Regions from separate parts of the Homo sapiens genome. Here region 2 is linked to region 1. The links come from fine-mapping of genetic effects on gene expression. A gene starts in region 1. The other region holds a variant in brackets. All regions are shown on one strand. Distances are from middle to middle.

Region 1 (11,680 bases):
TCTTGCTGGAAAAGGCCAGTAATCTACAGCCAGGGTAGGTTCAGTTCCTGGTGTCTCTGGAGAGGACAGATCCCATTAGCTCTGACAAACATCCCCAGTGTTCCTGCTCTTAACCTTTGTCAAATTTTCCAAAATCCAGCTAGACCCAGGGGCTCCTTGCAGGCAGTCGAGGCTGTGTCTGCTCCACTCAGTAGTCAGGTGGCCCACAGCTGCAAGGACCAGTCAGCTTTTTCTCAAGCCTGGGCCAGGCAAACTCTCTACATTTAGTAAACAGGGGCAAGAGGGATGCAGGGAGAGGTCTAAAAGATGGAAAAGGAGGGAGGGGTTATGGTTAGCCCCCTTTCAACAGTTCAGTGATAATGATGCTATAATTCTGTAGCAGAAAGTTTGCCCGCTTAGAAGTCAGGAGGGCTGAGTCCTAATCCTAGATCAGCCACTAAATGAACCATGTGCTCTTGGGCTGATCACTTTGCCTCTCTGCCTCAGTTTTCTCATTCTGCTATACAAGTGGGTTTGTCTTGAGAGTCTGTAAGAACCCTTCCAGCACTTCTGAAACACTGAAGTTTTTAGTGACAATCTTTAGTTCACATGACATGTTACAGTTTTTCAAGAACTTCCACATGCAAGCATCATTTGGAGCTACTGTGGGTTTGGTTCCAGACTACTGCAATAAAGTGAAAATTGCAATAAAGTCAATCACACAAGTTTTTTGGTTTCAAAATGCATGCAAAAGTTGTGTTTACCCTGTACTGTAGTCTATTAAGTGTGCAATAGCATTATGTCTAAAAACATCTTAATTAAAACATGCTTTATTGCTAAAAATGTTAACAATCATCTGAGCCTTCAGGGAGTCATAACCTTTTTGCTGGCGGAGGTCTTGCCTGGACATTAATGGCTGCTGACTGATCAAGGTGGTAGTTGCTCCAGGTTTGGGGTGGCCATGACAATTTCTTTCTTTCTTTCTTTCTTTTTTTTGAGATGGAGTTTCACTCTTGTTGCCCAGGCTGGAGTGCAGTGGCAGGATCTCGGCTCTCTGCAACCTCCGCCTCCCAGGTTCAATTAATACTCCTGCCTCAGCCTCCTGAGTAGCTGGCATTACAGGCATGCACCACCACACCCAGGTGTTTTGTATTTTTAGTAGAGATGGGGTTTCTCCATGTTGGTCAGGCTGGTCTCAAACTCCCGACCTCAGGTGATCTGCCCGCCTCGGCCTCCCAAAATACTGGGATTACAGGCACGAGCCACAGCGCCCAGTTCTTAAACTAAGAAAACAATGAAGTTTGCCACATAGATTGACTCTTCCTTTCTTGAAGATTTCCCTGTAGCATATGATGCTGTTTGATAGCATTTTACTCACAGTAGAACTTCTTTCAAAACTGGAGTAATCTTCTCAAACCCTACTACTGCTATCAACCAAGTTAATGCAATATTCATAATCTTTTGTTGGCATTTCAACAGTGTTCACAGCATCTTCACCAGGAATACATTCCATCTCAAGAAACCACATCCTTTACTCATCCATAAGAAGCAACTTCTCATCCATCCAAGTTTGATCATGAGGTTGCAGCAATTCAGTCACACCTTCAGGCTCCACTTCTAGTTCTCTTGCTATTCCCACCACATCTACAGTTACTTTCTCCACTGAAGTCTTGAACCCCTTAAAGTTATCCATGAGGATTGGAATCAACTTCTTCCAAACTCCTTTTAATTTTATAGTTTGATCTCCCATGAATCATGAATAATCATAATGGCATCTAGAATGGTAAATCCTTTCCGGAAGATTTCCATTTACTTTGCCCAGATCCATCAGAATCACTATCTATGGTGGCTATAGCTTTACAAAATGCATTTCTTAAATAATGAGACTTGAAAGTCAAAATTATTCCTTGATCCAGGGGCTGCAGAATGAATATTGGGTTAGCAGGCATAAAAACATTTATCTCCTTATAAATCTCCATCAGAGCTCTTTGGCAATGAGTTGCATTGTCAATGAGCAGTAAAATTTTGAAAAGAATTTTTTTTTTTCTGAGCAGTAGGTCTCAACAGCAAGCTTAAAATATCCAGTAAACCATGCTGTAAACCAATGTACTGTCATCCAGGGCTATGTTGTTCCACTGATACAGCACAAACAAACTCTATTTAGCATAGTTTTTTAGGGCCCTAGGATTTTCAGAATGGGCAAATGAGCATTGGCTTCAACTTAAAGTCACCAGCTGCATTATCCCCTAACAAAAGATTCAGCCTGTTCTTTGAAGATTTGAATCCAGGCATTGACTTCTCTCTAGTATGAAAGTCCTAGATGGTATCTTCTTCCAGTATGAGGCTATTTTGTCTATACTAAAAATCTGTTGTTCATTGTAGCCACCTTCATCAATGATCTTAGCTAGATCTTCTGGATAACTTGCTGCAGCTTCTGCTTTGGGACTTTCTGCTTCACCTTGCAGAAATCTCCATAGGCTTCACGTTTTCTTCTGCAGCTTCCTCACCTCTCTCTGCCTTCATAGAACTGAAGAGTGTTAGGGCCTTGCTCTGGATTTGGCTTTGACTTAAGGGAGTGTTGTCACTGCTTTGATCTTCTATCCAGACCAATAACACTTTCTCCATATCAGCAAGAAAACTATTTTGCTTTCTTATCATTTGTGTGTTCCCTGTAATATCACCTTCAATTTCCCTTAAGAACTTTTTCTTTGCATTCATGACTTGGGTAACTGTTTGGTGTAAGAGGTCTAGCTTTCAGCCCTTCTTGGCTTTCAACATGGCTTCCTCACTAGGCTTAATAATTTCTAGCTTTGAATTTAAAATGAGGAACATGCAAATCTTCCTCTCACTTAAACACTTAGAGGTCACTGTAGAATTATTAATTGGCCTAATTTCAATATTGTTGTGTCTCAGGCAACAGGAAGGCCCGAGGGGGAGAGAAAGAGAGGGAGAGAGAGAGATGGGGGAATGACCAGTTAGTAGAGCAATGGAGCAATCAGAACACACAATTACACTTATTAAATTCTCTGTCTTACACGGGTGCAGTTTGTGGTACCCCAAAACAATTACAACAGTAACATCAAAGATCACTGAGTACAGATCACCAAAACAGATAAAATAATCATGAAAAACTTTGAAATATTGCAAGAATTACCAAAATGTGGCACAGAGACACAAAATGAACACACAGTATTGGAAAAATGGTGCTGATAGACTTGCTTGACACAGGTTTGCCACAAACCTTCAATTAAAAAAAAAAAGCAGTATCTGCAAAGTGCAGTAAAGCAGAGTGCAGTACAACAAGTATATCTGTACCTTATTTTGTTTGTTTAATCCTCCTTAAAAACCCATTGATGTAGGTAAGGTATTTGGCAGATGACAAAACTAAGGTATGTGGTGAATAAGCAGTTACGGGCAAAACATGGCAGAGTTTACTGCCAAAATGAATGATCTCCACTTCTAGCCACTTCTGACTCAAGCTGCCCTTCTAGGTTTAGACCACTCTCCCCAGTGAAAGATCAACAAGACGGGCTCCTGGGAAATGCCAAAGAGGCTTTGTTGCCTTGGGTTCAGGGGTCAAAGGTCTAGGCTGTTCCTTAAGTCTTTTTGATGTCTTTTTTTAACATTTTTGGACCCAAGGGTGGGTTTGGCTTAGCTCCATACTCCACGTTTGCTTGCCATTTGAACTTCAGAGATGAAAGGCAGATCCCATAGCACTTAAGAGATTTTCCAGAACACTAGCTGGTCAGGGCAGAGCTAAACCTAAACGCAGGCCATCTACTTCCTACTGCTGAGCTAGTGCCCTCTGGAAGCATTGGCATATGGTGGTGGCCTCTGCTGCCCTGGCTAACTTGAGTCAGGGTCAGGGTCTTCCTACCTGTAACCCCTTCATCCCCACCCCAGGCACTGAAGCCCCACCATCTGTTTATGAGGCGGGTGGCCACAGAGATAGGCTGATGGTGAGGGGGTTTCACACACTGCGGTAACTAAGGCCTGAGCCCCACCCACTCTCCACCCCTGCGCTTAGTCCCACTTGACAGATAGAAGATCCTATTGTCCCTGAGCACTGTTAAGGGCTGAACTTTGTCCTCCAAAATCCATGTTGATGTCCTAACACCTAGTACCTCAGAACGTGACTGTATTTGGAGATAGGGTCTTTAAAGAGGTATTAAGGGTAAACGCAGTCATTAGGGTGGGCCCTACTCCAATATGACTAGCGTCCTTATAAGAAGAGGAAATGTGGATGTGGACACAGCCACACGCTGAGGGAAGACCCATGTGAAGACACAGAGAGAAGGCAGCCATCTGCAAGCCAAGGAGAGAGGCCTCCGAAGCAACCAAGTCTGCCAACACCTTGATCTTGGACTTCCAGCCTCCAGAATAGTGAGAAAATAAATTTCTGTTGTTTAAGCCCCCTGTACTTTGTCATGGCCGCTTTAGTAGACTCATGCGGGCACTTGCTGTAGACGCTGACCCCCTTGACCCTCCCTCGCTGCCCCTGCATTCTCCTCCACACACCCCTGAGCCCCAGCCCCAGATTCATCAAGTCCTTAGAGTCAGGAGAGTGGGCTCCATAAATCTGCAGCTACATTTTCCCATTTCAGGGCCTTTGAGGAGTGCTGGTTTGTGCTTCAAAGTGGGCCAGGGAAGGATAAACTGCCTTTGGAGCATTTGAGAGATTGAGGAGAGAACAGGAATCACCCAGAAAACAGACTGACGAATATTTTGAGTTAGAATCCTGCCACCCATGACAAGTCAGCTCCCACCCCTCCAGAGTCTCCAGCTAGAGCACTTGCAGTAAGAGTTCAGTGGGCCTTTCCAGGCAGCCAGGCATGTGCTGCCCTCCGGATTCATTAACAGGGTTTCTTGGGGTCAGAGGAGGTGCCAAAGCCCTGAGAGAAGCCAAGCCCCAGAGGACTCCCAAGTTCTCCCCGCAGACTCATATTCCTCTTGTAGGTGGGAAAGGGACGGAGAGGTGCAGGGGGAACGCCCTGTTCCACATGCCGTATTTACTCTGGGCATGGCTAATGACTCCAGGGCCTTATCATTCGGCCCTCAGACTGGGCTGGGCAGGTCTGAGAGTTAGGGAAAGTCCGTTCCCACTGCCCTCGGGGAGAGAAGAAAGGAGGGGGCAAGGGAGAAGCTGCTGGTCGGACTCACAATGAAAACGCTCCTTCTTTTGCTGCTGGTGCTCCTGGAGCTGGGAGAGGCCCAAGGATCCCTTCACAGGTGAGAAGACGTCCCCGCACTGTGTTCAGCTGGGTAGTCCCATGCCCTGCAACTCAGGGCTGCTCTGGGGTAGGAAAGCTGATGGGGAGGTGAAGAGGAGGAGAAGCTGAGGGCTTGCGTCAATGCATGGAAGAGACTCATCCAGTGACCGCCTGTGTATGGCCTTAATCTCCAGTCCTCAACAAGTCATCCTCCTGCCTCCACCTCCACGGAGGTGCCTTCCCAAGTCCCAGGGGTCTTCTTGTGTTGCAAAAGAGCAGGAACCTGCAGTTGTGGTTTGTAGCTCAAAGCGCCCCAGGACTTCCCCAGGGGACTGACCATCACTGTCCCCAAGAGTTTTTCTGTCCCTTTAAATCAGCCCTTCGTGATGTTCATGTAAAACTGTAGACCGCCCCACATCTCCCATTTTCCTAGATCTCAAAGACCTCAGCTCCAGGAGGGGAGCCATTTCCACTCTAAGATTCTAAGACTCTATAGGGCAGAGATGAGGCCGGGCAGGCTGAGTGGCAGAGAGGACGCTGATCCCACCTGTATCCTGCGTGCTGTCTTGCAGATCCCCCCCTCCCACCCCATCTTCTCTAGTTGGCCCCTGAGAAAATGGGACGAGAATGGGGGGAAGAGGGAGGCAGAAGTACATCTCCTGCTTACATGGGGGTTTGTCTCCAGGGTGCCCCTCAGGAGGCATCCGTCCCTCAAGAAGAAGCTGCGGGCACGGAGCCAGCTCTCTGAGTTCTGGAAATCCCATAATTTGGACATGATCCAGTTCACCGAGTCCTGCTCAATGGACCAGAGTGCCAAGGAACCCCTCATCAACTACTTGGATGTGAGGCCTCCTGGGGTCAGGGCTGGGGAGAGGTGGGAGCGGGAGGAAGGCCCAGCATTAGGGCATGGCCAGTGCCACATCAGTAGCACCGAAGGCCATTGTGGATTTCTTCACTTGGATGATGATCCATGGGGACTGATTCCCTGGGTCCCCATGGAGTTGGCTAAGCAGGCCCCCATGTACCCAAATGTCAGAGTTCTCTGCAGAAGGAAAGGGCTGGGAGTGAAAGCATCATCCCACACTGAAGGCCCCTGCTTCTGCTCTCAGCTGGGCAGCTTACTGGCTGTGTACCCTTAGGCAAGTTACTTAACCTCTCCCAGCCCCAGTTCCCTGGTCTGTAAAACAGATGGTTCTTCCTCCACTGCCTCTCCTACAATGTATTTATAAGAATCAGGTTAGTGCAAGTAAAATCAAATGAAGTAGCCAGAGGCTTGGTTTGATTTCCTCCTTCATGGCCATTTCTCTGCTCCTTTTACCTTTTATTTTCCAGCGTTGCCACTTCCTAGGCTCTGTAAACTCCAGTCTGTATTACCCCAGGCTCTGGCCCCTGGGAGCTTTCCCCTGGCTTCCTGGTGAGCACCCTTGTCCCTCCCCACCACCCACACCCTCTTTCCTTCTCACTCTTCCTTGCAGATGGAATACTTCGGCACTATCTCCATTGGCTCCCCACCACAGAACTTCACTGTCATCTTCGACACTGGCTCCTCCAACCTCTGGGTCCCCTCTGTGTACTGCACTAGCCCAGCCTGCAGTAAGTGGGGCCAGGAGCACCAGCAGAGAATGTCTGGGGGCTAGTCCTGGGAGGCCAAGCCTGGTACTCTGGGGAAGGGGGGCTTAGGTTCCAGAAACTGGCCATCCCTGCCACACCAGCTTCCACTCTCCATCTTTGAGTCAGCCGTGGAACTGCTTATAGCAGAGATAGAGCAAAGCCAAGGAAGAACTAAAATGTGGCTGCTGTCCAAGAGAGTAACTTTCATACTGATCAGAATTAATAGAAAGAAAGCCATTGAAAAGAGAAATCTTTGACATAATGACTCACTTCCTTTGGAACACCCAAAGGAATGTAGGGGAAGTTTAATTTAATTGGTTATTTCTGAGCAGGGAGGTGAGTCGGGTTCTAGTGTAGATAGTCTGCTTGTTTCAAGGAGGCTTGGTAGCCTTATCTCCTGGTGCACACAGGTGGGGCTGGTGGGGCACAATGGCATGGGTGGGTCCATTTGTCCAGAGGTAACTCAGAAGTTTCAGTGAGGATTGGAAAAGAAGAGCTACAGAAAGATGTCTTGTTCGATACAGGACAAGTCCCAGAGACAGAATGTCTCTGGAAACCCCAAGGCTAGAGATGTCCATCGGTTGGGAGAAAAGTTGGGAGTAATTTCCTGGGGCAATTGTTTATCCCTGAGTTTCTTTTGAAGCCAACCTCTGACCCACAATGGGTGGCAGGGACTGTGGCTGGCGCCTGATAAATGACACTTATCTTGGTGTGCCTCATGAGGTCATTGTGGACAATCAGGTTTGCTCAGGGATAGCTATTTGGTCCCCAGTTAGGCCACATCTGTAGCTAGAGGGAAATGTAGTTGTTCATTAGGGAGGGGCATCACCAGGCTTCTAGGGGCCCCCACTCAGTGTTGAGAGCTGAGGGAAGAGACCCTGCCGCTGTGGGGCTGGGTGGCATTAGGGCAGGGATGCAGCCAGTGAGCCGATGGCATAAGCAAGAGCAGTGCACTTCTTTCCAGAGACGCACAGCAGGTTCCAGCCTTCCCAGTCCAGCACATACAGCCAGCCAGGTCAATCTTTCTCCATTCAGTATGGAACCGGGAGCTTGTCCGGGATCATTGGAGCCGACCAAGTCTCTGTGAGTGCAAGTCCTTCATTTTTTCTCTCTTGGACAGAAACTTGGGAGACTTATTCAGAGGTCTTACATTTCAAATCTGCCTCAGGAATGGGTGGAAACAGGGGTTAGCACTAACTTCTAGGAGAAAGGGCAAGCAACACTCCCCACCTGAGATGGTGGCAGTGGGTCAGTCTCCACAGCACGCTGGGCCCTGGGGGAGAGCAGCACAGGGGGACTCTGGCAGGAAGCAGTGCCCAGTGCACAAAGCCTGGTGGCAGGGTGCACAGCTGGATCTCCAGTCTCTAGGGCATTGAGGAGATAAAACCACGTCTCCGTCTTGAAGGATAAAGAAGTCCACACCAGGGGGAGAGATTTGGACTCAGTAACATAAGGGGGCAAGGTCTGAAATGGGAGTCCAATCACAGAGGCAAGGCAGAAGCCCAGTTGTCCAAAGGCCAAGGTCCAAACTGAACTCAGTGCTGAGCTCATGAGCTGTTCCTCAAACTCCCTCTGACCTCTGACCCTCTGACTCCCTCTGAAGTCCTATGGGTCCTAGAACTATGGGAATCAGACAAATGTGGGGACAGAGAGCCAGGTACTTTTTCAGGCTTATAGACAGCAATATATGCCTGGGCCTTGGGAGAAAGAGAGGTTGACCTACTCCTGGTGAACGTTGGTCCCTGGGGTATTCCCGAGGCCAGCAGGGCACAGCCTTCATCAACATCCCTTAGAGTGGGTGGAGTAGGACATATTATCAACTGAAAGAATGCCAGAAGCAGAAAAACACCATCTATGTAAAAATATCATACAGATAAAACAATGTACTGTATTTTCTATTGGAACTATGTATGCGTGTGTATACACACATTACATATATAATATATAATATATAATATCCATATATGAATATATGTAATATACAGTATATTTGTATATATAATATATATCCATCTGTATATATTATATAGATACAATATGTAACATATTAAAGTATATAATAATTGCATAATTATATCATATAATACATGTTATATATTATATAATTAATATAATATGTAATACATTACATTAATATATGTTATATAATATATAATATATTATAGAATATAATTGATATAATGTATTATATTAATAATATAGTATGTGTTATATAATATATTAATATGTTGTATGTAATAATATATTACATAATATATTATGTTAATCTATTATATAATAGATTAACCTATTATATAATAGATTAACATAATATATTACATAATATGTTAATCTATTATATAATAGATTAACACAATATATATGTAATGTGTATATATTATGTTATATATAAGATTCTATATATATTATGACATATACATATATATTATATATCTAATTACATATAATATATATATAAAAGTTAAAATGACTATTTTGAAGGCTACATCCCTAACTGATCATCACAGTAACCTCTGAGATGCAGGGAAGGGACTGAAATTAGCATAGAAAGGGGAATTCAAGCCTATAGCTTGTCACGTATCTGTTGGCTCACCTGGCTGGTGTAGGGCAGCAGCCAAGCCCACAGCAATGTCAGCTGCATTGCTCCTTCCCTCAGTTTTTCTGGCTCCAGGACCAGGTGTGCACTTACCTCTAACAAATCATCAGCTTTTGCTGCATAACATCCCCATCATTGAGGCTGGAGACTTGGGGACAGTGAGAGAACAATGTGGGTTCCAGTCCACCCTCACCCTCATGGGTTCCAACTGGCCCTTTTTCTCCCACTTGACATCTATCTTCCCTTTCTGCTGTGCAAACTGTAGACTGCTGCTGCAGCATCAGGACAGAAACAGTATCCTAAAGTACACTGTTTAACTAGCACCCACAGTTGCATATAATCAATATCTATATCCACATCATTATAGCTATATCTATAATCTATAGTACCTCCTAATGGTTCTGCTTCTCTTATCAAACCCTGACTGACATAATAAAGATATGACATGTGAAAATTTGTAGATGAAGCTGATGCAGCCCTTAAAGGGACCATTTAGCCTAAAATGCATGCGTTGTTAATAGAAATGCTAATGATCAATTATCTAAGCTCCTATTTCAAGAAATGAATAACAAGAAAATGAGCAAACCGTAAACAAACAATAGCAAATCAAACCCAAAGAAATCAAAAGGAAGGAAATAATAAAGAGTAGAATGGGACACAAATGAAATAGAGAAATCACACAGTACAGAAAATTAACAAAGCCAAGAATGAACTCTTTGCAAAGAGTAATAAAATTGGTTAGCCTCTCACATGACTAAATAAGAAAAAAGAAAGAAAATACAACTTAACAATGTTAGAAATGAGAAAGAGAACATTAGTAAAGTTATCAAGAATAATTTTATATTGATAAATTTTACAATTTTCAGAAAATCAACAAATGCCTTGAGAAATACAGCATACCAAAACTGATGCAAAAACAAAAAATAGAAAATGTGAATCTTTTAAAGATATACTCTGTTATTAAAAAATCTTTCCACAAAGAAAACTCCACGAAGAAAAGCCTCACTGATAAATTCTCTCAACACTAAAAAAAATCAGTCTTTCACAAACTCTTCCAGATATTTGACAAAGTAAAAACACTTTATAACTCATTTTATGAAACCAGCATAACTTTAATAATGAAACTTGAAAAGGACATTATAACAAAAGAAAATATAAAATTACAGACCAATCTCTTCTCTCATGAATATAGATGCAAAAGTTCTAAATGAAATACTAGCAAATAAAATCTTTTGGTATATAAAAAGATCATACCAAGGGTCATCTTTCCAGGAATTTATCATTTAACAGAATAAAAGGAGAAAAATCATATGACCAATATGATTATATTAGTAGGTTAATAACATTCAATATCTATTCATGACTTCAAGAAAAACTCTTAGCAAACTAGGAGTAGAAAGTAACTCCCTTAATCTGATAAAAATGAAGGACTTCATCTAAAAGAAGCCCACAGCAAACTTTATACTTAATGGTGAATTGTCGAGAGACTTCTCCATAAGATCAAGAATGAGACAAGGACACTCAATCTCACCACTTCTATTCAACATTGTACTGAAAATCCTAGCCAGTGCAACAAGGCAAGAAAAAAGAAATAAAGAACATTAAGATGGAAAAGGAAGAAATAACTCTGTCAATATTAATGTATGACAAGATTCCATAAGTAGAAAATCCAAAAATATCTACAGAAAGGATATTGGGATTAATATGTGAACTTAGCGAAGTTGCTGGATATGAGGTCAACATAAAAAAAATCATCTGGGGCCAGGCACAGTGGCTCACGCCTGTAATCCCAGCACTTTGGGAGGCCGAGGCAGGTGGATCATGAGGTCAGGAGTTTGAGACCAGCCTGACCAACATTTCTCTACTAAAAATACAAAAATTAGCCAGGCGTGGTGGCACACGCCTGTAGTCCCAGCTACTCAGGAGGCTGAGGCAGAAGAACTGCTTGAACCCAGGAGGTGGAGGTTGCAGTGAGCCAAGATCATGCCATGGCACTCCAGCCTGAGTGACAGAGTGAGACTCTGTCTCAAAAAAAATCATTTGGATTTATATATACAGGTTATGGATCCTTATCCCAAATGCTTGGGACCGGAAGCCTTTTAGATTTCAAATTTTTTCAGATTTTGAAATATTTGCATTATACTTACCAGTTTAGTATCCCAAATCTGAAAATCCATAATCTGTAATGCTCCAATGAGCATTTTCTTTGAGCCTCATGTTGGCACTCAAAAAGTTTTGGATTTTGAAGCACTTCAGTTTCAGATTTTCAGATTTGTGATGCTCA
Region 2 (11,680 bases), 25 kb before region 1:
ACACACATGCCACAAACAAAAAAACAGGTAAAAAGGGCATACACACTCTTGCAGTTTACACCAAACCAAAATCAAAACCAAAATCAGAGTATCCAGAAATCCAAGCCAGGTCAAAACCAAAACCAAAACCAAAGTATCACACAATCTAAGTCAAGTCAAAACCAGAACAGAAGTGCCAATGCAGGCATGTCGTGGGTGATCAGGCCACACTTCCACCTAGATGGAGTGGGGCAAGTTCCAAAGACTAGTCTTACCAAGTTTCAGATGTCCGGACTCCAAGTGCCAGTTCCTTCCCGGTGTTCAGCCACTGTGTTAATCCTCCACAGGGAACTGCTACACGCTGCTCTGGTGAGGCATTCCACCGGGGCAATTTCCTACCCGGGAGTGCTCTTTGGATCGCGTCACTCGGGCTGGCCGGAGTCCGCCTCAGGGATGCTCCACAGGGGAGGCCTAAGCCGCCTAAGGGGCTGCCTCGGCTGTCCATCAGTTACCTCGTTTCCTGGTCAGGGAACCAAGAAATGTAGCAGGACGAGCCGCAGACAAAACCCCTCAGACACCAAATTGTAGAAGGAAGGGCTTTATTCAGCTGGGAGCATCAGCAGGCTACTGCCTTAAAATCCGAGCTCCCCGAATGCACAATTTCCGTCCCTTTTAAGGGCTCACAATACTAAAGATTTCACATGAAAGGGTCATGATTGATTTGAGCAAGCAGGCGGTATGTGACAGGGGCTGCATGCACCGGTGGTCAGAGAGAAACAGAACAGGGCAGGGAGTTTCACAATGTTCTTCTATACAATGTCTGGAATCTATGAATAACATCAGTTTCTAAGTTATGAGTTGATTTTTAACTACTGGGTTTAGGCCAGGCAGGCCCAGGCCTGGTTTCGGGCCTGGCGCCGGACTGCCTGTCTTTGGTTTTACTTCCTTGTTGTTTTTCCTTAAAACAGGTACTGAGTATAAAACAATATAAAACAATATGAGAGGGTCTCTCTCTTCCCTCACAGTGACCTGGGTCTCAGACACTTCCTAACTGTGATCTTAGGACAAACACTTAGCTTTTCTGAGCCTCATCTGTGAAACAGACAGAATATGAATGCCTACCTCATGGAGTTGTTTAAGAACTCAGTGATCAGACTATTATTCAACAGTAATAACGAGCCAGGCCCAGTGGCTCACGCCTATAATCTCAGCACTTTGGGAAGTCAAGGCAGGAGGACCGCCTGAGCTCAAGAGTTTGAGACCAGCCTGGGCAATATAGCTAGACCTTGTCTCTACTTTAAAAAAAAAAAATCCGAAAATTAGCTGGGTGTGCTACTGCATGCCTGTAGTCCCAGCTCCTTGAGAGGCTGAGATAGGAGAATCACTTAAGCTAGGGAAGTCGAGGCTGCAGTGAGCCATGATCACACCATTGTACTCTAGCCTGGGTGACAGAGCAAGACCCTGTCACAAAAACAAACAAAGAAACAGAAGACAGGAATAACCACCATTTGTATTGTTCTAGTTTTCAGTTGGTCTTACCTGAGCAGAGTAATTGGGTGAGATTGTTCATGGAGGCATTGCTGGCTCTCTAGTCCTGGAACCTACAGTTGGTCCAATTCATTATGCCAAAGGGTCCGTCTAGGAGGTTCTTGTTCCAAGTATTGAGATTCCCGAGAGAAGTAGGTCCCCTTAGATAGAAGCAGAGTTTCTCAGAGGTATTTAGCAGCAGCTGGTGGACACAGGACTCAGGGAGCTGGCCCCCCTCTTCCCTTCCATGTCTTTCATTCCTGCATGGGAACCTGTCAGATGGGGAGATTGTTAAAATCTCACCACTGGAGGGGAGGGCCTCAAAGGCCATGGAGACAGCACCTCTCTCTTAGTGAAGGCATCTTCAGATAGAATTCAGCACAAATTCAAAGGTGGCTCCCCAGACCCTATCTGTCACATCGCCCTCTCATCTATTAGTATCTGAAGTCACCTTGATCATTTATTTGTTTACTTGATTATTGTCAGCCTCTCATCACATGAATGTGAGCTTCATAAGAACAGAGACCTTATCTGTTTTGGCCAACATTTCACCCCCAGTGTCTAGAAAGTGCCTCATGCAATGAATAGGTCCAATACATATTTCTTCAATAAATGAATGAATGAATGAATGCCAAAGACTCCTTCATAAAAGCCAGGGTCAACTGACCTCTGCCAGAATTTTGGAGAGCCTACACCACAGACTTTTGAACCTCTTAGCTGATGACAAATCTTTAGCCTTCGAAGCGGAAATTGATTTGAAAGAGCCCAAAGTACTCCGGTAAAGTAGGTGATGTTGAACTGGGTAATGTCAATTTCAGAAAAAGAGGACACGTGCCTGTGAAACACCAAGAGCAGTGTCCTGGGGTTGGGGAGGACACCTGCCTGGGTGTGGGTGGCCAAGGGGAAGAAGGAAGAGAAAGAGCAGGGGAAGATGCTGTCCCACAGCCACCACCACAGGTGTTCACCGGCCTCAGGCGCCAGCCCTGCTCAGGGTGAGAGGCGAAGAGGGAGGTGTGCTTAAGGCCAAATGAAAGAGGATCTGCCACCCTCTCCTCCCCCAACTCTTACCACATTCTAGCAAAGAGAGCTGCAGGAGCAGTCAGGAAATCCCCTAACAAGGCAAGCATTGGAACCAAGAGCCCAGGTGGCACGGATGAGTCACTTCACTTACTTGGACTCAGTTCCCCTATTTGTGAAATGAAGCAAGGATGAGAAGAGGAACAAGACGTGATCAAGAAAAAGGCAAATGTTTTCACAAGTGCCTGTCATTGCCCCCTTCTGTTGTCCCCTTCCACATGTCACCTGGTACATTGTACATTTCTTCTAACAATTGTGTTATTGGCCAGGAAATACAGAGAATTCTTTTAGAGAATAGGTTTTCTAAGTGTTAAAATTGTTTTTATTTTTAATTTTGTAAGGGGAGGACATCATCACCTTTTCAGTTTGGGACTTTTGAAGTGTTTGTTTCATTAGGTCACATTCAGATGGTTTTAGAATTCAAAAGGTACAAAAGGATAGTCCTGGAAAAGCTGCTCATCTGCTCTTGACCCCAGCCATCTAGTTCTCCTCCCTGGAGGAAACCAGCATGCCCAGTTTATTGTGTACGTTATGTGTACATGAGCAAACACACAGACACACAGAAACACACTCACCATACAGGCGTCTTCCTTACACATGACAGTGTACTACATACTTTGTTTTGCCTTTTGCTTTTTCACTTAATATATCTAGGAGTTAATTTATTATTAATACATACAGAACTTTCTCATTCCTTTCTTCCTCTTCAGAGTGTTCCGTTCTATGGTTGCTCACAGTTTATTTAACTGGTCATCTAGTAGTAAATTTAGATTGTTTCCACTTTTTACACTTGAAATGATGATGTAATTATTAAACTGCAACAAACATCATTTGCACAGGTGTAAATATGTGTGTAAAATTAGAGAAATGGCCATTAAAGTAGATCTGCCATCCCAGTTTTAGGAAGTCAGTATTCCTTTTTACAAATCCAAAATACAGTGTTACCCAATTTGACTACTCATATTATAATCCAGATTTCACTCTGGCTGTTTCCAAAAATCAAAGCACTCCTCAGAGAACAAAGATATGACATCACTGAGGATATTCAACAGAACTACCAATTTCTCTAAAGGCCGACCTCCAAGGAGAATCCAAACGCCTTCAGCAATAACAGCATCACTAGAGTGAGTATAGCATGTCCCTGGATGCTGATGATGGAGCGATAAACCCTCATGACACAGACATTTCCAAACAATTCAGGCAAAGTTTACTGAGTGCCAACTACATAGTCTGTTTAAAGCCCAGTCTGTCCTATTACACTGGTCTTTCAGTTTAAATAAATAAATAAATAAATATAAATAAATAAATAACCCAGTCTGTAAGGATGAATAGAAAAAGGCCTTGTCATCAAGAAACCAATGATCTAGGGAGCAGTTCTCAAAGTGTAGTCCAGGGACCCCCTGGGGGTTCCAGAGATCTTTTCAGAGGGTTCATGAGGTCAAAACCACTCTCTTAATAATACTAAGATACTAGTTGCCTTTTTCACTCTCAGTTTCTCTCAAGCATACAGTGGAGTTTCCCAAAGTCTATGTGACATGTGGTATGGCATGAGACTGAGTGCAAAGGCAGACCTGAGAACTCAGCTGTCTTTTATTGAGCTAGGTATGAATAATGAGATTTGCACATGCATAAAACAGTGCTTCTCTTTTCATTAAATTCTTCATGCTTTGGGAAATAGTTATATTTCATAAAAAGTGTTATGTTTAAGATGTAATGGCTTTGGTACTATTTTCTAAGGGGATTAGATAAATATTTTTAAATTTTCTTAGTTTTAATTTCTGATATGGTCAATATGAATAGATATAAACTACATAAACAATAGCGTTTTGGGTTCCTTAGTACTTTTTGAGAGTGTACAGGGGTCTGGAGGCCAAAGAGTTTGAGAATTGCTGATCTAAGGACCCATGGCATTTCTTCACCATAGGGCAAGAGAGGAGCATTTTGCCTTATCTGCCAAGAGTGTGCTATGCTACATCCAGGGGTGCAAGCCAAAAGATTCAGGAGGAACAGATTGGGTGTTCTCAAATAGCGATGTGTCAAGAGGACAGCAATTGCTTGGACACAAGAATTCCCCCCGGAGCCTGCTGGCTGGCAGTGCAGCGGCTGTGTAGAAAGGCTCTACCAGAGGGGCAAAGTCCAGGCATGAGGCAACAAGGAGGCTCTGAGGTTGGGGGAGCCTGCAGAAGAAGCGGAAGAGGAAGCTGGATAAGTCCGCCGCCCCTGGACTAAGCTGCTGACTACCTCCTGCTGTGATTCCAAGAGCCACTGCCTCAAAAAACTTCCTTGCAGGTGCTGGTGCCTGAAATTCCAGTGGAGGTGTTTCATTCCCTCAGCCAAAGGCAAATTCAATCCCAACAATCTCAAGTATCACTCAAGCTTACACAAGTGTGCAAATAACATTATGGAAGATAGATTCGAAGGTCACACTTTAATAAAACAAGAGAGTGTGTCTATAACAGGAGTGGGGTGGGATGGGTGGAGCGGACGGGAAATGGAGAACAAAGACTCAAAAATATGAAATAAATAGAACATAAGAGCAGTTCGTGGACCCATGATGTAAGAATGCCACTAGGGGGATTGATCAATCTGATTCTGGGTAGCTAAAATCAAAGAAAAAAAAATCCAATCCAGTCAAACTTCTCTGTAGCATATGGTATGTCCTTAGCAGCGTGAGACAGCTTACAAGGATAGAGAAGAATGAGACACGGGCCCTGGGTTCAGAGAGTGCTACCCCACGCTCACCCCCCACCCCAATTTAGCGAGGAAAATATCCGCGGCAACCATAGCAGCTGTAACAAAAGGTAGGTGTATAATCAAAGCTAAAAAGATGTACAAAGAAAGGGCTATTGGATCAGAAAGGAGGAGCAGGTTGTTTCTAACTTTAGTGACGAGGGAAGACTACATGGAGGAGGTGGCATTTGTTGTGGTCACGGATGTGTAGGAAGGATTCCTATGGCAGTGCTGAGGCTGTGGATATACCAGATGGGAGGGTGCTTGTAGTGAAGGCATGGCAGTTGGAATATCCAGCCATTTTTCCTTCGATGAACATCTGAAATCACTGCTAAGAGAGGGAGCATTGTACACCTGAGGGTGAAAGGAAGGCTGTCACCTAGGATGCAGAAGGAGGGAGGAACAGAACCTGGGAAGACAGAGGGCACGAAAGACAGTTCATGAACTTCAAGAGCCCAGTGGACTGAGATCATGTCTGATTTCACTTATCTCCCCGGCTTCTAGGCCAGTGCCTGGAACACAGCAGCCCTCAATAAATGCTCATTGAATGAATGAGAAGTTGGACACACTCCCTTTGCTCTTTTTCAGGCTGGCCACAGATGTGCTGCCGTAACCGAGTGGAGCCATATACTCTCACCATTTCTAGGACTTTAAATGTTTTTCTGGTTGCTTTTGCAGAATTTCATTTCTCCAAATAGAAACCCTGCGTCCTCTTGAGGTTTATTACAGAGGTATTTATTGGTTGGGGTTGCTTTAAAGATCACCATCAGGTTTTCATTTTGCACAGCAGCTTATTTGCAAACGTCAAACAGGTGTCTTAACATTTGGCATCCTAAGAAAATTAAACTGTCAGCCTCTTGGGCTCCTACAAAAGAGCACCAGTGAACATGTGAAGCCAGAACTGTCCACAGGTGACTTAACAGGAACTGATCCCATATTACCATCCTTTACTGGCTCTGCACATATCCTTCATTCAATTTAAAAACATAATAAAAATTTTTTTTAAGCAAGCACATTTTACTTACTTATTTGTTTATTTAGACAAGAGTCTCACTCTGTCGCCCAGGCTGGAGTGCAGTGGCGTGATCTCGGCTCACTGCAACTTCTGCCTCTCGGGTTCAAGTGATTCTCCTGCCTCAGCCTCTCGAGTAGCTGGGATTACAGGCACCCACCACAATGTCCAGCTAATTTTTGTATTTTTAGTAGAGACGGGGTTTTACCATGTTGGCCAGGCTGGTCTCAAATTCCTGACCTCAAGTGATCCACCGGCCTCGGCCTCTCAAAGTGCTGGGATTACAAGCATGAGCCACCGCACCTGGCCGCAAGCACATTTTTAACAAGTGCAAAATGGAAACCTTATGCACATCTTACGATTTCGTTGACGACTCAGAACTGGGGATATCTCGTGTGACCTCCGGTCAGCAGTTTAAAGGATGAGGCATACTTATCCCCATTTGTAGCTGAGGTAACTGAGTGATAAGTGAATTGCTCCAGGTCACAGTTAGCAAACAACAAAACCAGCATCCAAACAGAGGTCTCAAAATCCCTTAAACTACCTTTCATTTACTACACAGATTGTTTCTATATCATCTTTATTAGCTGTAATAACCACATAAATTTTGGAGTAGCTAAGGACAGTTGTTCAGGTTGTTTATTGCTCAAGGGCATGACATCTAAAGAAACTATCCAACCTGTAATCCCAGCACTTTGGGAGGCCAAGGTGGGCAGATAATCTGAGGTTGGGAATTCAAGACTAGCCTGACCAACATGGAGAAACCCTGTCTCTACTAAAAATATAAAAAATTAGCCAGGC[G/A]TGGTGGGGCATGCCTGTAATCCCAGCTACTCAGGAGGCTGAGGCAGGAGAATCGCTTGAACCCGGGAGGTGAAGGTTGCAGCGAGCCAAGATCGCACCATTGGACCCCAGCCTGGGCAACAAGAGTGAAACTCCGTCTCAAAAAAAAAAAAAAAGAAAGACAGAAACTATGCACATCACAGACATCATTATGTTGAATTTTTTTCACTTTTTTATTTAACTGCTAACTCTAAAGGTAGATGACATATTCTTATTAAAATAGTTTTCTGACAAATAACAATAAAATGTCTTCTCTAACAAAGATCCTTTTTTATGACAATTTTCTTTCAGATGGAAATAGATTTTCTAACAGGGTTGACATTTACTTCATAAGCTGAAGCAGAGAGTGTTTGACAAAGACCTTATTGGTTTAAGTAACGAGTGCCACAATAACTAGTGCTTCCAAACAAGGAGTTGTTTTCCAACTCTTGTTTTGATTTTTATCTAATTTTTTTTTAAATCCTGTATTAGTATTTGTGTATTGGCTAAATTTGAAGTTTTGCATTACAGTTCATATTGTCTGCCTGAATGGTAGCTCTGAATTCCTAATTTAGATCTACGGATTTTTATTATTACATAACTCACTTTTGTGGTAATTAATGATCATAGGCAATTATATATTCATAAAATAATTATTTTATATTCATAAATTAGAGACTATTATATCATGAATTGTGAATTGTATCATAGCTATTGTTTATGGGTTGTTAAAGAAAATTTCTTCAGGAGAAAAGCTAACTGCTGGTAAAGTTTCATGGCTTATTATATATATTTTTTAAAGTTTTAAGTTCTAGGATAAACTACTATTATGTTTTAATTATGTATATAGATATATACACATATATATATATATATATTTTTTTTTGAGACAGAGTGTCGCTCTGATGCCCAGGCTGGAGTACAGTGGCATGGTCTCAGCTCACTGCAGCCTCCGCCTCCCGGGTTCCAGCTATTCTCCTGCCTCAGCCTCCTGAGTAGCTGGGATTACAAGCATGTGCCACCACGCCTGGCTAATTTTTGTATTTTTAGTAGAGATGGGGTTTCACCATGTTGGTCAGGCTGGTCTTGAACTCCTGGCCTCGTGATCCACCCGCCTCAGCCTCCCAAAGTGCTGGGATTACAGGCATGAGTCATCATGCCCGGCCTTAATAATATTTCTTTAACATTTAATAAGCTAATATAATATTATTTCTCCCAGGATACTGATAAGAAAAAAAAATCAAACTAAAACTAGAAGATGAAAAGCTGTCTAGATAGAAAGTAAAGTAAAACTATTTGGATTATTGAATAAATTTAGGGAGAAATAGAGAGTTTAGGGCTGTTTGTTTCAGTGAATGTGTCACAGAAATGTGAGATGTGAATTTACCTTTTAGTTCCATTGTCAGAAATAATCGATGAATCTAAAAAAAAGTAGCTTTAAAAATGCAAAGAATTCAAACACATGGCCAAGTAGTTTGAATAGGAAACAAAGATGTACTCTTGCTGAAAATTATTCACCTCAAGTAAAAAATTTTTTATCTTTACAAAAGATAATACAGGTTGGAAGTTTTTGGAAATATAATGGACACAAATTTTTTCCAAATGGTGAGGAGAAATAATAATGACTAGATTCTGATTATTTTATTATACTTCCAAGGACTCTGTATTTTGCCAGCTCTTTGAGAACAAAAAATCAGCTGGAAAATGGGAAAGAATGCAAAGATTGTACAGCACTTGGCACATTTTTTTGTAAACATGAAGAATCTGAAATAAACATCAATAGGAATGCTAAGTATTCAAATTTCAAATCTGATTAGAAATATATAATTATTAATGCTGCAAAACAGATTCTATATGATGAGGAAAATATTACATTGAACAAAAAAACTCAATTCTGTTTTGGCAAGACAATATCTAGCATTCAGAGGATCATCTACAAAAATGTATAAGCAGTATAATAACAGGAATTTTCTTCATTTACGAAAAGCATAGAAGCTTAATAGAATTTACAGCAGTATACAAATATATATTGTATGTTTCAAATATGCAATAATTTGTATATATACAATATATATTTGTTTATATAAACATATACTTGTATATTATTGTACAAATATTATATACTATATATAAACACCAAATATATACCAAATATTATATACTATATATAAATATTATATACTATATATAAACACCAAATAGCATTTACACATTATGTAGCAGATGAAAAGCAAAACCAAATGATTAAAATATAGCAGATTTGTTGACTGAAGTTATTTTGAATCTTGTAAGAAGTGCTAAATATCACACAGTTAAATAACTTGAGGTACATTTCCTGATGTAAGCCACGTGGAACAGTTGACAATTATTTTTAGATTTGTACATTTTCAAAATGCAAATATATCTATATGTAAACATTAATTTTTTTCCCTACAGTAAATGATACAGCTGGAGAAGGATTATTTAGGTTTTTGGTTGACCACAACCATCACCAACAGAAGCACTGAATATAGGCTATAATGATTTGAGGGAGCAGATACAACAAAGATGAAAAAAATTTATGACAAACTTAATGGATTTCAGCATAGGTCCCCAAAAGATTCTAAGGCTGCCTTGCTCTGTCGCCCAGGCTGGAGTGCAGTGGCCTGATCTCGGCTCACCGCAATCTCCGCCTCCCAGGTTCAAGTGATTCTCTTGCCTCAGCCTCCCAAGTAGCTGGGATTACAGGCACACGCCACTGCACCTGGCTAATCTTCTGTATTTTTAGTAGAGAATGGCGGTTCACCATGTTGGGCAGGCTGGTCTCGAACCCCTGACCTCAGGTAATCCACCCACGTCAGCCTCCCAAAGTGCCAGGATTACAGGCGTGAGCCACCACGGCCGGCCAGGTTGCCTATTCTTTAAAGCCAATAGTGAATAAAATATTAAAAATTCCTGTCTGGGTGAGGTGGCTCACACCTGTAATCCTCTACAATCTGAAGGTCAATAGCAAAATTAGTTTTTTTCTATATTGGAAGCAATAATATCTCTTTAAAAGAGAGGCTTATAATAAAGAATATCTCAAGGTCTTTTCAGTATTCTAGATGACATGCATAAATTGAAAAATTATGACAAATATGAGCTTCTGCAACCATTAAAAATATACAATTGAAATTGAGAAACATAGGAGGAAGAGTGATACTGATGAAGCATTAGTGTAAGAGGAACTAAAATCCTGAAGTCGCTTTCTAAAATCTAGTTGATATGGCTGGGCTCACACCTGTAATCCCAACACTTTGGGAGGCAGGAGGATCGCTTGAGCTCAGAAGTTCAAAACCAGCCTAGGTAACATGGTGAAACACTGTATCTATACAAAATTTAGCCAGCATGTTGGTACATGCCTGTAGTCCCAGCTACTTGGGAGGCGGAGAGCAGAGGATTGCTTGAGCCCAGGAGGTTGAGGCTGCAGTGAGCCATGATCGTGCCATTGCACTCAAGCCTGGGTGACAGAGCAAGACCCTGTCTCAAAAAATAAATAAATAAGTAGATTAATAAAATCTAATTGCCTCCCATGAAATGCCTCAATTTATTTTCAGTAATAATATACCAGACACATTTTCCTAAAACCATCCTAGCTCTTAGGATACATTAACTTTGGTAGTATCAGCCAGCAGTGGAAAATGTAGATACTTTTAAAACAATTATAAAAAGCTACTTATCAAGAATGTCACAAGAAAGACTATCAATTCTAGTGACCATTTTTATAGAAAATAAGATACTGAGCCGGGTGCAGTGGCTCATGCCTATAATCCCAGCACTTTGGGAAGCCGAGGGGGCGCAGATCACCTGAGGTCAGGAGTTCGAGACCAGCCTGGCCAACATGGTAAAACACCATCTCTACTAAAAATACAAAAATTAGTGGGGCATGGTGGTGCACACCTGTAATCCCAGCTACTCAGGAGGCTGAAGCAGGAGAATCACTTGAACCCGAGAGACGGAGGTTGCAGTGAGCCGAGATTGCGCCACTGCACTCCAGCCTGGGTGACAGAGTGAGACTCCATTTCAAAAAAAAAAAAAAAAAAAACTGGAACAAGCAGGCATTAAAATTGACATAGAAAATGTTGTCCCCATGAAAATTATTTTATGACTAAAACTATCTTATGATGAATTGTTACATCCCAGAGACTTTCAAATCCTGAGTATTGTGACTAAAAACACTAATTTTCTATTATCTTGGATTTAATAATTTTATATATATAATTCATATAGAACCAACTTGTGTTTGTTTCATTGGGGTACCCCTTCCTTATCCCACACAGGTGCTGTAGGGGTCAATAGTAACCCAGCACCTTTTAGTGATTAGTTAAAAAGTGACTGCGGCAAGAGGACAGCTAGCAAAGCATCTGTTCTCTTCCACGCATGTTACCTCGTGCATGTGATTACTGTGTGTGAACCTGCCTGACAGTGGTTGCCTACTCAGGCATGAAAGGCCTGCCATGATCTGAGTCCTGCCCACCTCCCAGCCGTGCTCTCTTACACTTTATGCTGCAGCCAGCC

The links.
Region 2: its variant is fine-mapped to the expression of CTSE in whole blood (TOPMed, PIP above 0.99).

What each region holds. Positions count from the first base shown.
Region 1 is chr1:206,017,252-206,028,931 of GRCh38, reverse strand. It overlaps CTSE (cathepsin E), which reads left to right and starts at 5,037. Exons shown (of 9, transcript NM_001910.4): 1 at 5,037-5,208; 2 at 5,875-6,031; 3 at 6,665-6,782; 4 at 7,765-7,883. The coding sequence starts at 5,141.
Region 2 is chr1:206,041,840-206,053,519 of GRCh38, reverse strand. RHEX (regulator of hemoglobinization and erythroid cell expansion) reads right to left here and starts at 347. Exons shown (of 6, transcript NM_001007544.4): 1 at 255-347. LOC105372857 (a long non-coding RNA gene) reads left to right here. Exons shown (of 3, transcript XR_922473.3): 3 at 1-77. RefSeq lists enhancers at 232-291, 712-951, 2,315-2,814, 3,969-4,038, 5,768-5,937 and 1 more. The variant G/A (reference allele first, on the strand shown) is at 7,127.